Regions from separate parts of the Homo sapiens genome. Here region 1 is linked to region 2. Evidence: fine-mapped expression QTL. A gene starts in region 2. The other region holds a variant in brackets. All regions are shown on one strand. Distances are between the middles of the regions. Region 1 has its middle 6.1 kb from the start of ANKDD1A. Region 2 holds the start of PIF1 (PIF1 5'-to-3' DNA helicase).

Region 1 (5,306 bases), 80 kb before region 2:
TCTTCCTGCATCCTTTGTACAGCCTCAGAGTCCTCCATTGGGTGGCTTATTCAACCACTCCCTGTTGATGGACATTGGCCCTGTTTCCAGACTTTTGTTATTACAATAGAGTTACAATGACCAACCTTATGCATGCATCAGTTGGTATTTTTACCAGTGCATCTATGGGATCTATTCTTATAAATGGGATTGCTTGGTCAAAGGGTAAATGCACATATAACTTTGCTAGCTATTGCCAAATTCTCCTCCATAAGGTCCAGAAATATTTTGCATTTCCATTACCAATGTATGAGGGTGCCTGTTTCCAAGGAGAACATTCTGTAAAACTTGGATTTTTCCCAATCTGATAAGTAAGAAATAGTAATTCATTATAATCTTAGTTTGCATTTCTATCATTACAAGAAAAGTTGGTTATCTGTTTCTATGTTTAAGAGCCGTTTTCTTTTCTTTTTTTTCCTGAGAACAATCTGTTCTTATCCCACTCATTTTTTAAATGATTGTTGGCCTTTTGCTTAAGAGAAATTTTAAAACAGCTTTTTATTTCTTGTCTTATTAATGTTTGTTCATTACTAAAGAAATTTTAAAATACAAAGAAGGGGCTGGGAGCGGTGGCTCACGTCTGTAATCCCAGCACTTTGGGAGGCCGAGGTGGGAGGATCACGAGGTCAGGAGATCAAGACCATCCTGGCTAACATGGTGAAAACCCATCTCTACTAAAAAAATATATATATATAAAATTAGCCGGGCGTGGTGACGGGTGCCTGTAGTCCCAGCTACTCAGGAGGCTGAGGCAGGAGAATGGTGTGAACCCGGAAGGTGGAGCTTGCAGTGAGCTGAGATCAGGCCACTGCATTCCAGCCTGGGCGACAGAGTGAGACTCCGTCTCAAAAAAACAAAAAAAAAAAAAAAGAAGGGACAAAATACAATCAATCTACCAGAAGACGCCACCATGAATCACTTGTTATATATTGCGCTAGCCCTTTTCTAACAAAAGAAAAAAATACACACACACACACACACACACAAGAGTGGTAAATATTTGCTGGTCTTGTACCAGCATTTGGGAGCCAGAATGGCACTGGTTTCCTCTCTGCTTAGAGCAATCAGCTGCTTGAGAGGAGGGAGGGAGTGGCAGAAGCTCCCAGCCAAGTGGGGTCAGGGGTACCCAGTGGGCAGCTCCTGAACAGGTGCTCCAAATAAGTGAGCAGTTTGATTGTGGGTAGGAGTGGCAGCCCCCTGCAGAACTGCTCACCCAGTGGGGGAAGGAGCAGCAGGAGCACAGGACTAAGAGACCTGAGCTCCAATCCAGATCTGCACTGCCCAGCTGTGGAACTGGACAAGTCCTTTCCCTCTCTCCATAAGGAAATAGGCCTGGATGGTCTTTTAGGTCCCTGGCCCCTCAAGCATTGGATTGAGAGGTGATGAATAATCCATTAGAGGAAGAAAGCATTAACCAAAGGGAGGCAGGGCCAGTTTATTTTTCAGGTCCCTAGGTACCCTCTAAACCAGTGGTTTCCAATCTTTTTACCACCATGGACTGGTTTTCTGGAAGACAATTTTTCCATGGGTTGGGGTGGGGCCATTGGAATGGTTTCAGGATGAGACTGTTCCACCTCAGATCATCAGGCATTAGATTCTCATAAGGAGTGCAGCAACCTATCGCATGTGGGGACAATAGGGTTCATGTTCCTATGAGAATCTAATGCCTCTGCTGATCTGACAAGAGGCAGAGCTCAGACAGTAATGCCTGCTGCTCACCTCCTGCTGTGCAGCCCCATTGCTAACAGGCCACAAACCCATACTGGTCCTGCCCGGGGGTTGGGGACACCTGCTATAAACTCACAGACCTCAGACTCCACCCACATCTCCCAGCACTTGTGTATCCATGTCTTTCTGAGTCCAGTCCTAGCTCGGCTGTGTGACCCCATGCAATCACTAAATCTCTCTGACCTTCAATTTATCTGTGGATGATCCTTTTTTAATAGGGCTATTTCAAAATGCCTAGGCCCAGGCACACAATGAGTGCCCTAGTGTGGTGGCGGTGATTATCCTCCAGCTCTCCACCTGCAACCTATACTATCCCATGTAATCATATTGACAACTCTGTGAGGCAAATGCTAGAATATGGAAGCTCCACTGTACGGAGGAGGCACCTGAGATTCAGAGAGGTTAATACTTCACTCAGGGACATACAACAAGCTGTGGAGAGTTGAGAATGGCCTCCAGGTGTGACTCGCTCCAAAGGAGAAACAGGTGATTCCCATGGCATTGAACCACGTGCTGGGTCCCCAGCCAGGCCACAGCTGAAGGTGAGGTTGGAGGACATCCTTCAATCCAACCACCCGGCCAGTCCACTGGGACACCCCAATTCTAGGGCGTGACTTTCTTGCCAGGAAAGAAAGCAATTTGGCGGAAAGCCTCAGAAAACAGCGCAAACAGGCTGGGCGTGGTGGCTCACACCTGTAGTCCCAGCACTTTGGGAGGCTAAGGCAGGTGGCTAAGGCTTGAGCCCAGGAGTTCGAGACCGGCCTGGGCAAAATGGTGAGACCTACCCTTCCACCCCCCCA[C/A]ACACACGCTCACTGTCTCTACAAAAAAAATTTAAAGAAACAAAAGGAAAAATAGCGCAAGCACGTAACCTGACGCAGAGGATCCAGGTGAGAGGGACTAGGAGCGTATGGGCGTTCAGTTTCCCTGAGCCTGGCTTCTCGCGCTTAGCGTCCTCCTGGAACTCCGAGGGGAGTGGGCAGAGGCCTCTGGGCCTCGCTGCAGTTTCGGTTGTCGACACGCGGGGGAGCAAGAGCCGGCGAAGAGCAGCTGTAAATACCGTAATTCCCTCCCATCTGTCCCCACGACCGGCACGACAGTGATGGAGGCCAGAGGGGCGCGAGGAGGGAGAGGCTAGGGGTTACAGACTGTAGTGTAACCTGAGATGGGCTGGATCTACCTATGACAGAGGAGGCTCTGCGCAGAGAAGCAGGGTGCCCACATGCTGAGTCTCCCAACTGGCTCCTCCACGCTGGGCTTTCTGCTGTACCATTTTCTGAGGCTTTCCCCAAGATTGCCAGTGAGGGTACGTGAATGCCAGGCTAAAGACTTGGGCCATGGGGGCGGGGTGAGAGAGGAATAGACGCGGTGGTAAAGATGTAAGTAAATGTGGGGTTGAGTGGCAGTTTAATTCCCAGACATACTCGGGCCTTTCTAATGAGGGAAAAGATCCAATAACTTTCGCAAAGAAAGTAGGGAATTACTATGGATTCCCGTTAGAGGAATGCGCATCTTAAAAAGCTGCAGGAAGGGGGCAATATTTAACCCAAATGAAATTCTAAAGGTCTTTTTTTTTTTTTTTTTTTTTTTTTAGACGGAGTCTCACTCTGTCGCCCAGGCTGGAGTGCAGTGGCGCGATCTCGGCTCACTGCAAGCTCCGCCTCCCGGGTTCACGCCATTCCCTTGCCTCAAGCTCCCGAGTAGCTGGGACTACAGGCGCCCGCCACCATGCCCGGCTAATTTCTTTTTGTATTTTCAGTAGAGACGGAGTTTCACCATGTTAGCCAGGATGGTCTCGATCTCCTGACCTCGTGATCCGCCCGCCTCGGCCTCCAAAAGTGCTGGGATTACAGGCGTGAGCCACCGCGCCCGGCCTTCTTTTTTTTTTTTTTTTTTTTTTTTTTAACTTTTGTTTTAGGTTCAGGGCTATATGTGCAGGTTTGTTACATAGGTAAACTTGTGTCATGGGGGTTTGTTGTACAGATTATTTCATCACCCAGGTACTAAGCCAAGTACCTGGTAGTGATATTTCCTGATTCTCTCCCTCCTCCCATCCTCCACCCTCTAGTAGGCCCCAGTGTCTGTTGTTCCCTTCTTTGTGTCCATAAGTTATCATCATTTAGCTTCCACTTATAAGTGAGAACAGGCGGTATTTGGTTTTCTGTTCCCGTGATTTTTTTAGGTTAACAGGCAGAAGGGAGAGAGGTGTTTGCCTGGAGAAAGGATAAGATGACCTGGTGTTGTTGGGTTGAGGGGTGAGGCAGTTCTGTGATCTGGGTCCCAGAGCAGGGACAGGGTGCAGCCTGTTGTGAAAGCCCAATGCACCGGATGTGTGTCCTCTCTAAGAAGGTAGCACAGCCATGTGCAGTGTCATTGAGCATGCCCTCTGCCCAGGGCTCTGCCAGCCCAGCCAGTGAGGCTCAAGTTGGGGGACAGGAGGTTGGGGGTCAGGGAGAGATGCTTGGGAAGCGAGGAAAAGAGAAAAGGAAAAGGCACCTAAGAGCTGGCAGGCTGGAGTCAGGCAAGACCTTCATCTTCCAGACTTGTTTTCTCATCTGGAAGGTGGAGATAATAACACTACCTATATGCAAAGGGCTATTGTGAGAATTCAATCAGTTGTTGTTCTAGAAAGTGCTCTGTAACCACTACAAAGACTAGGCATGAAACCTCCTCTGTAGAGGGCTCCCAGATTGCTCCAAACTCAAAATGCCCCTTTCCTGAGGGTTCCCAGAACCCATGGTCAAGCCTTCCGTGGTATCCCTGGCCTAGATGCAAGTAACTGTTTTGCAGCTGTCACCTTCTGCTCCAGCTCCCACTAAAGCACCCTCCCAACCCCAATCCCTGCCATACTATGAACTTTTTTTAAATTTATTTATTTTTGAGACAAGGTCTCACTGTGTCACCCAGGCTGGAATGCAATACAGTGTCAAGATCATGGCTTATCACAGCCTTATCTCCAGGGCTCAAGCGATCCTCCCACCTCAGGCTCCCAGGTAGCTGGGACCACAGGCATGTGCCAACACGCATAGCTAATTTTTTTTTTTTTTTTTTTTTTTTTTTTTTTGCAGAAATGAGGTTTCCCTATGTTGCCCAGGCTGGTCTTGAACTCCTGGGCTCAAACAATCCTCTCACCTCAGCCTCCCAAAGTGTTGGGGTTACAGACGTGAGTCACAGCGCCTGGCCAACTGAACTTGTCAAGGCAGATGTGGTAGCTAATTCATCCCTGTACTCATTCAAAACTACAGCCTGATAAGACTTGGCAAAATGATACTAAAGTTTATCTTAAAACAACAACAACAATAAAAACAGACAGCAATGTTATGAAAACAAAGAGCAGTGGAGGGAAAGATGGGACCAGATACTGAAACAATTTGACAATGGCTATCAGAATTTTTTAAATGTACATACCTTTCATGCCAACAACTCCATTTCTAAGAATCTACACCATAGAAATAATTGCAGTAATTACATAAAGATGCAAGGATGTCTACTGCGATCTGTTCCGTAACTATAGCAAACAATTGGAAACAACCCAAGGGCCC
Region 2 (5,370 bases):
GGCTGAGATGGGAGGATCACTTGAGCAGGAAGGTCAAGGCGGCAGTGAGTTATGATTGTGCCACTGTACTCCAGCCTGGGTGGCAGAGTGACAACCTGTCTCAAAAAAAAAAAAAAGATTTCTAACAGGTTTATGGAGATATAATTCACATACCATACAATTTAAGCATTCAAAGCATTCGATTCAATGGTTTTCAGTATAGTCACGGGGTTGTGCAACTATCACCAATCAATTTTAGACTATTTTTATCTTTCTCCCATTTTGAGAAAACAGAGGCTTGAGACATTATGGAAACCTGCTTAGGGTAGCATCCACTGGAAAGGCATTGCAGTGGCTGTTACTAGCTGAGATTCCAGTCCAGGTTATACCTTTCATGAAGCTAGGCCAGTCACCTTGAGGCAGAAGAACAGGGTCTGGAGGCAGGGAACCTAAGGCTGTTTCACGCCGACTTCCTAGAATTAAATTAAAAGGAAAACCCGGCTGGGCACAGTGGCTCACACCTGTAATCCCATCACTTTGGGAGGCCGAGGCGGGCAGATCACAATGTCAAGAGATTGAGACCATCCAGGCCAACATGGTGAAACCCCGTCTCTACTAAATATACAAAAATTAGCTGGGCATGGTGGCATGCACCTGTAGTCCTAGCTACTTGGGAGGCTAAGGCAGGAGAATCGCTTGAATGGGGGAGGCAGAGGTTGCAGTGAGCCAAGATAGCGCCTCTGCACTCCAGCCTGGCAACAAATAGAGACTCCACCTCAAAAAAATAAGAAGAAGAAGAAGAAGAAAAAAGAAAACCCTGGCCGGGCATGGTGGCTCACGCCTGTAATCTCAGCACTTTGGGAGGCCGAGGTAGGCGGATCACGAAGTCAGGAGTTCGAGACCAGCCTGGCCAATATGGTGAAACCCCATCTCTACCAAATATACAAAAATTAAATGGGCATGGTGGCACGCACCTGTAGTCCCAGCTACTTGGGAAGCTGAGGCAGAAGAATCGCTTGAACCCAGGAGGCAGAAGTTGCAGTGAGCCGAGATCCTGCCACTGCACTCCGGCCTGGGCAACAGAGCACAGAGCCAGACGCTGTCTCCCAAAAAAAAAAAAAAAAAAAAAAAAAAAAAAGGAAAACTCTAACTTTCCACTCCTAAGTAAGGACAAGAACAAAAGGACCAAAGGCTACTCCCTTTGACGTTTCCCGCATGGCAGATGGGAGATTGGCAGATGGGAGATTGGCTGTCTGCAACAAATCATAGGAGTGTGGGTCCAGTCTTCGTTTGCAACTTTGTAACTTCACTCCAGCCTCTGAATGGTGGCTGAATGGTTGCTGTCTGCAACCAATCAGACTGATTATCGCTACCACTTCAGTTACATGAAGTAAGCGTAAAGTTCCCAATGGGAAACTTCTAGGGGGTATTTGAACCCAAGAAAATTCTGTATCTCGGGTCCCCTCCCACACTGTGGAGTGTACTTTCGTTTTTGTTTTTTGTTGTTGTTGTTTGTTTTGAGACAAGTTCTCGTTCTGTCGCTCAGGCTGGAGTGCAGCGGCACGATCCAGGCTCACTGTATCTTCTGCCTCCTGGATTCAAGTGATTCTCATGCCTCAGCCTCCCAAGCAGCTGGGATTACAGATGTCCACGACGACACCCGGCAATTTTTGTATTTTTAGTAGAGACAGGGTTTCACCATGTTGGTCAGGGTGGTCTGGAACTGCTGACCTCAAGTGATCCCCCCACCTCGGCCTCCCAAAGTGCTGGGATTACAGGCGTGAGCCACCGCGCCTAGCCGTACTTTCGTTTTCAAAAAATTCCTGCTTTTGTTCTTTTGTTGCTTCATTCTTTCTTTGCTTTGATGGGCATTTTGTCCAATTCTTTGTTCAAAACGCCAAGAACCTGGACAACTTTCAGTCATCACCCTCTACCGCTAACAGACTGGGAGCAGTGTGGTGTAGTAGCTAAGCCCCATGGAGTGATTAAGCGAGCAGGTAATCTGGGTTCAATGTTTGGTTTTGCTCTCCATATCAGCTATGTGACCTTCAGTAAAATCTCTGGAAGCCTTGCTTTTTTCTCATTTGAAAAATAAGGTCCGGGCTCATGCCTGTAATCCTAGGACTTCGGGAGGCCACGGTGGGTGGATCGTTTGACCTCCGGAGTTCGAGACAAGCCTGGGAAACATGGTGACATCCCGTCTATACGAAAAAAAAATTATATATATATATGTGTGTGTATATATATATATGTGTGTGTATATATATATGTGTGTGTATATATATGTGTGTGTATATATGTGTGTGTGTGTGTATATATATATATATATATATATATATATATATATATATATAAATTAGCTGGGTGTGCATCTGTAGTTCCAGCTACCTGGGGGGCTGAGGCGGGAGGATCACCAGAGCCCAGGAGGCGGAGGTTGCAGTGAGCCACGATCGCGCCACGGCAGAGGTTGCAGTGAGCAGAGATTGTGCCACTGCACTCCACTACAGCCTGGGCGACAGAGTGAGCCCTAAGAAGGAAAAAGGAAAGGAAAGGGCAATTTAATCCATGGTAGTTATCATTATCTGTAAAATGAGGTAGCCAGACTCACCTGTAAGATCCTTTCCAGCTATGTAATTCCAAGCTTCAATGAGATAATAAAGATGATTAAAAGTAAATTCTTTCAGCATCCTGTGCAAGAAGAGGGATACAATTTCCCTGAAGACAGAGACTCTACTCGCTTCCGCTGTACCCTCTGGCACGTGGCACAGGTCTCAGAGTTTCTCACTCATGGGCCTCAGGTGGGTGAGAGAGCCAAAGCGTAAAGTCCCTTACAAAGGCAGAGAAGGATGTAGAGTTGGGGGCGGGGGAGGGATTGGGCAGGCCTTGGGGTGGTCTGCCCAGAACTGGACAATGGTACTGTGAGTGTAAACAGGGGTGTGAGAGTCCAAAGGCAGATCTTCCCCAAGGCTAAGCCCAGCCTCTGTGTGCGGGCTAGAGGGGAGAGGGAGTGTGCTGGAAGGATGGTTCTGAAAATAAATCTTCGGAGTCGCGTAGGGTTTTCAGACCCGACACCACGCGCCGCCGGGTGGCTGCCGCAGCGGCGGCCTCCTCCCACCACGCCCAGCCGTCCACTGGATTTGGTATGCTCAGCCACCACCATAAACCTCCTTCCTCTAGCAGGCAATTGGTACAGCCCAAGCTCCTGGAGTAGAGACGCAAAGAAAGACACGCCCATTGTTACGCCCCTACCTCTGAGTGGCTGGAGAATTTAAAGATCCAGTCGGTGATTGGGTGATTTTCTGCCTCTAGCATTTGAAAAATTTCTAGTTTCGGAGCTTAGCCACAGGCCGGCTACGATCTGCTTGTTCATCTGAGTGTCGGCACAAGTGAGTGTCTGCCCGAACCCAGAGGTGGGGAGCAAAGAGCCTGATTTATCTAGGGGTTTCCGGCGGGAGGGTGCAAACAAATGGGTCAGCCTGAGGGAGCACGGCTTCTAGGGTCCCAGGGTCCCCCGCGATTTCCCTAGCCGAATATTTTCCACCTCGTCCCCACCTTGGTGGTGGGAAGCGCGAGGGCATGGGAATCACACTGACTTTGACTACTAGCCGCTGTGGCTTATGAAGGGCAAGTGAGTTTCCCTCTCTTAGCCTGTTTCCACGTCTGTACACGGGGAAGAGTGAGACCTGCCCGCTGCATATAAGCCAGTGAATGTACCTACAAGGCAGAAGTCGCTTATTACACGGCAGCCCTCTTTGCATCTCCCCACGGGCGATTCTCCTGCTTCCTGGGGAGAGTACTCTGAGGATTCATGTGCTCGCCCTGGGTCTCGGGGAAGGAGGATTCTTTCTGCGCAGGGACCCCTGTTCTAGTGAGGTCCTTGCAGGACACCTGAGGCTCCCTAATCCTCGGTGCCCATCCGCCGCTCTGGAAATTGTTGTGTAGCACGGTGTGTGTGTATATGTGTGTGTGTGTGTGTGTGTATATATATAGAAATTGTATATATATTGTGTGTATATATATATAGAAATTGGATATATAGAAATGGAAATTGTGTAGCAGGGTGCGTGTGTGTATATATATATATACATATATATACACACACACACACACATATATATAATGTATGCATATGTATGTATTTATATGTATGTATTTTTTTTTTAATTAGAGGGTGTCGCTATGTTGCCCAGGATGGTCTCGAGTTCCTGGGCTCAAGCGATCTTCCTTCTTCAGCCTCCCAAAGTGCTGGAATTACAAGCGCCCGCCACCACGCCCGGCTAATTTTTGTATTTTTAGTAGAGACGAGGTTTCACCATGTTGGCCAGGCTGGTCTCAGAACTCCTAACTTCAGGTGATCCGCCCACTTTAGCCTCCCAAAGTGCTGGGATTAAAGCGCGAGCCACTGCGCCCGGCCCAGGGCATATTCTAAGGGTGGATTTTCGGTTAGCCCAAAGCCCTTTCTCCGTCTTTGTGACCTCTTTGTGTTACCAGTGACAGTCCTCGTGATCTTGTGTAGCCTTGACCCTGCTCCCTGTCACGTCCTTTATAGCACCCATTACGTCCCCTATAGCACCCATTACGTCTCATGAATCCTCATGACCCCTGTGCTCCGGTGTCTTCGCAGACCAGCAGAGGCGGTGACGATGCTCTCGGGCATAGAGGCGGCGGCAGGGGAATATGAGGACTCGGAGCTGCGGTGCCGCGTGGCTGTGGAGGAGCTGAGCCCGGGCGGGCAGCCGCGAAGGCGCCAGGCCCTGCGCACCGCGGAGCTGAGCCTGGGTCGCAACGAGCGCCGCGAGTTGATGCTGCGGCTGCAAGCGCCAGGGCCCGCGGGGCGGCCGCGCTGCTTTCCTCTGCGCGCCGCGCGCCTCTTCACGCGTTTCGCCGAGGCCGGGCGCAGCACCCTGCGGCTCCCCGCCCACGACACCCCCGGGGCCGGCGCAGTGCAGCTGCTGCTCTCGGACTGCCCCCCAGACCGCCTGCGCCGCTTCCTGCGCACATTGCGCCTCAAGCTGGCTGCGGCCCCGGGTCCCGGGCCGGCCTCCGCCCGAGCGCAGCTGCTGGGCCCGCGGCCCCGCGACTTCGTCACCATCAGCCCTGTGCAGCCCGAGGAGCGGCGGCTCAGGGCGGCCACCCGGGTTCCGGACACTACGCTGGTGAAGCGGCCTGTGGAGCCCCAGGCTGGGGCCGAGCCTAGCACAGTGAGGACGGGAAAGAAGGGACACCTTTAGGAGTAGATGTGCCATTCTTTAAGATGGCAGAGACCTAGAGACCCAAGTTTGAGGGGAAGCCGGTGTGGGTATTTGATACCCATCTGACATCTCAGTATGACAGGGGTGTGGGAATTGTGCCTGTGGTTGTTATAGTGTAATCCCTGAGATGGAGTAAATC

The links. PIP is the estimated chance that this variant, and not a neighbour inherited with it, causes the effect. A credible set is the group of variants that fine-mapping cannot tell apart.
Region 1: its variant is the best candidate, but not a certain one, in a credible set for the expression of PIF1 in blood mononuclear cells (TOPMed, PIP 0.84).

Annotation. Positions count from the first base shown.
Region 1 is chr15:64,903,181-64,908,486 of GRCh38, reverse strand. No RefSeq gene overlaps it. Among named protein-coding and RNA genes, the nearest start is that of ANKDD1A, 6.1 kb to the left of the region's middle. The variant C/A (reference allele first, on the strand shown) is at 2,568.
Region 2 is chr15:64,823,588-64,828,957 of GRCh38, reverse strand. It overlaps PIF1 (PIF1 5'-to-3' DNA helicase), which reads left to right and starts at 3,311. Exons shown (of 13, transcript NM_001286496.2): 1 at 3,311-3,389; 2 at 4,604-5,180. The coding sequence starts at 4,623. RefSeq lists enhancers at 3,049-3,178, 4,368-5,035 and a silencer at 4,737-5,226.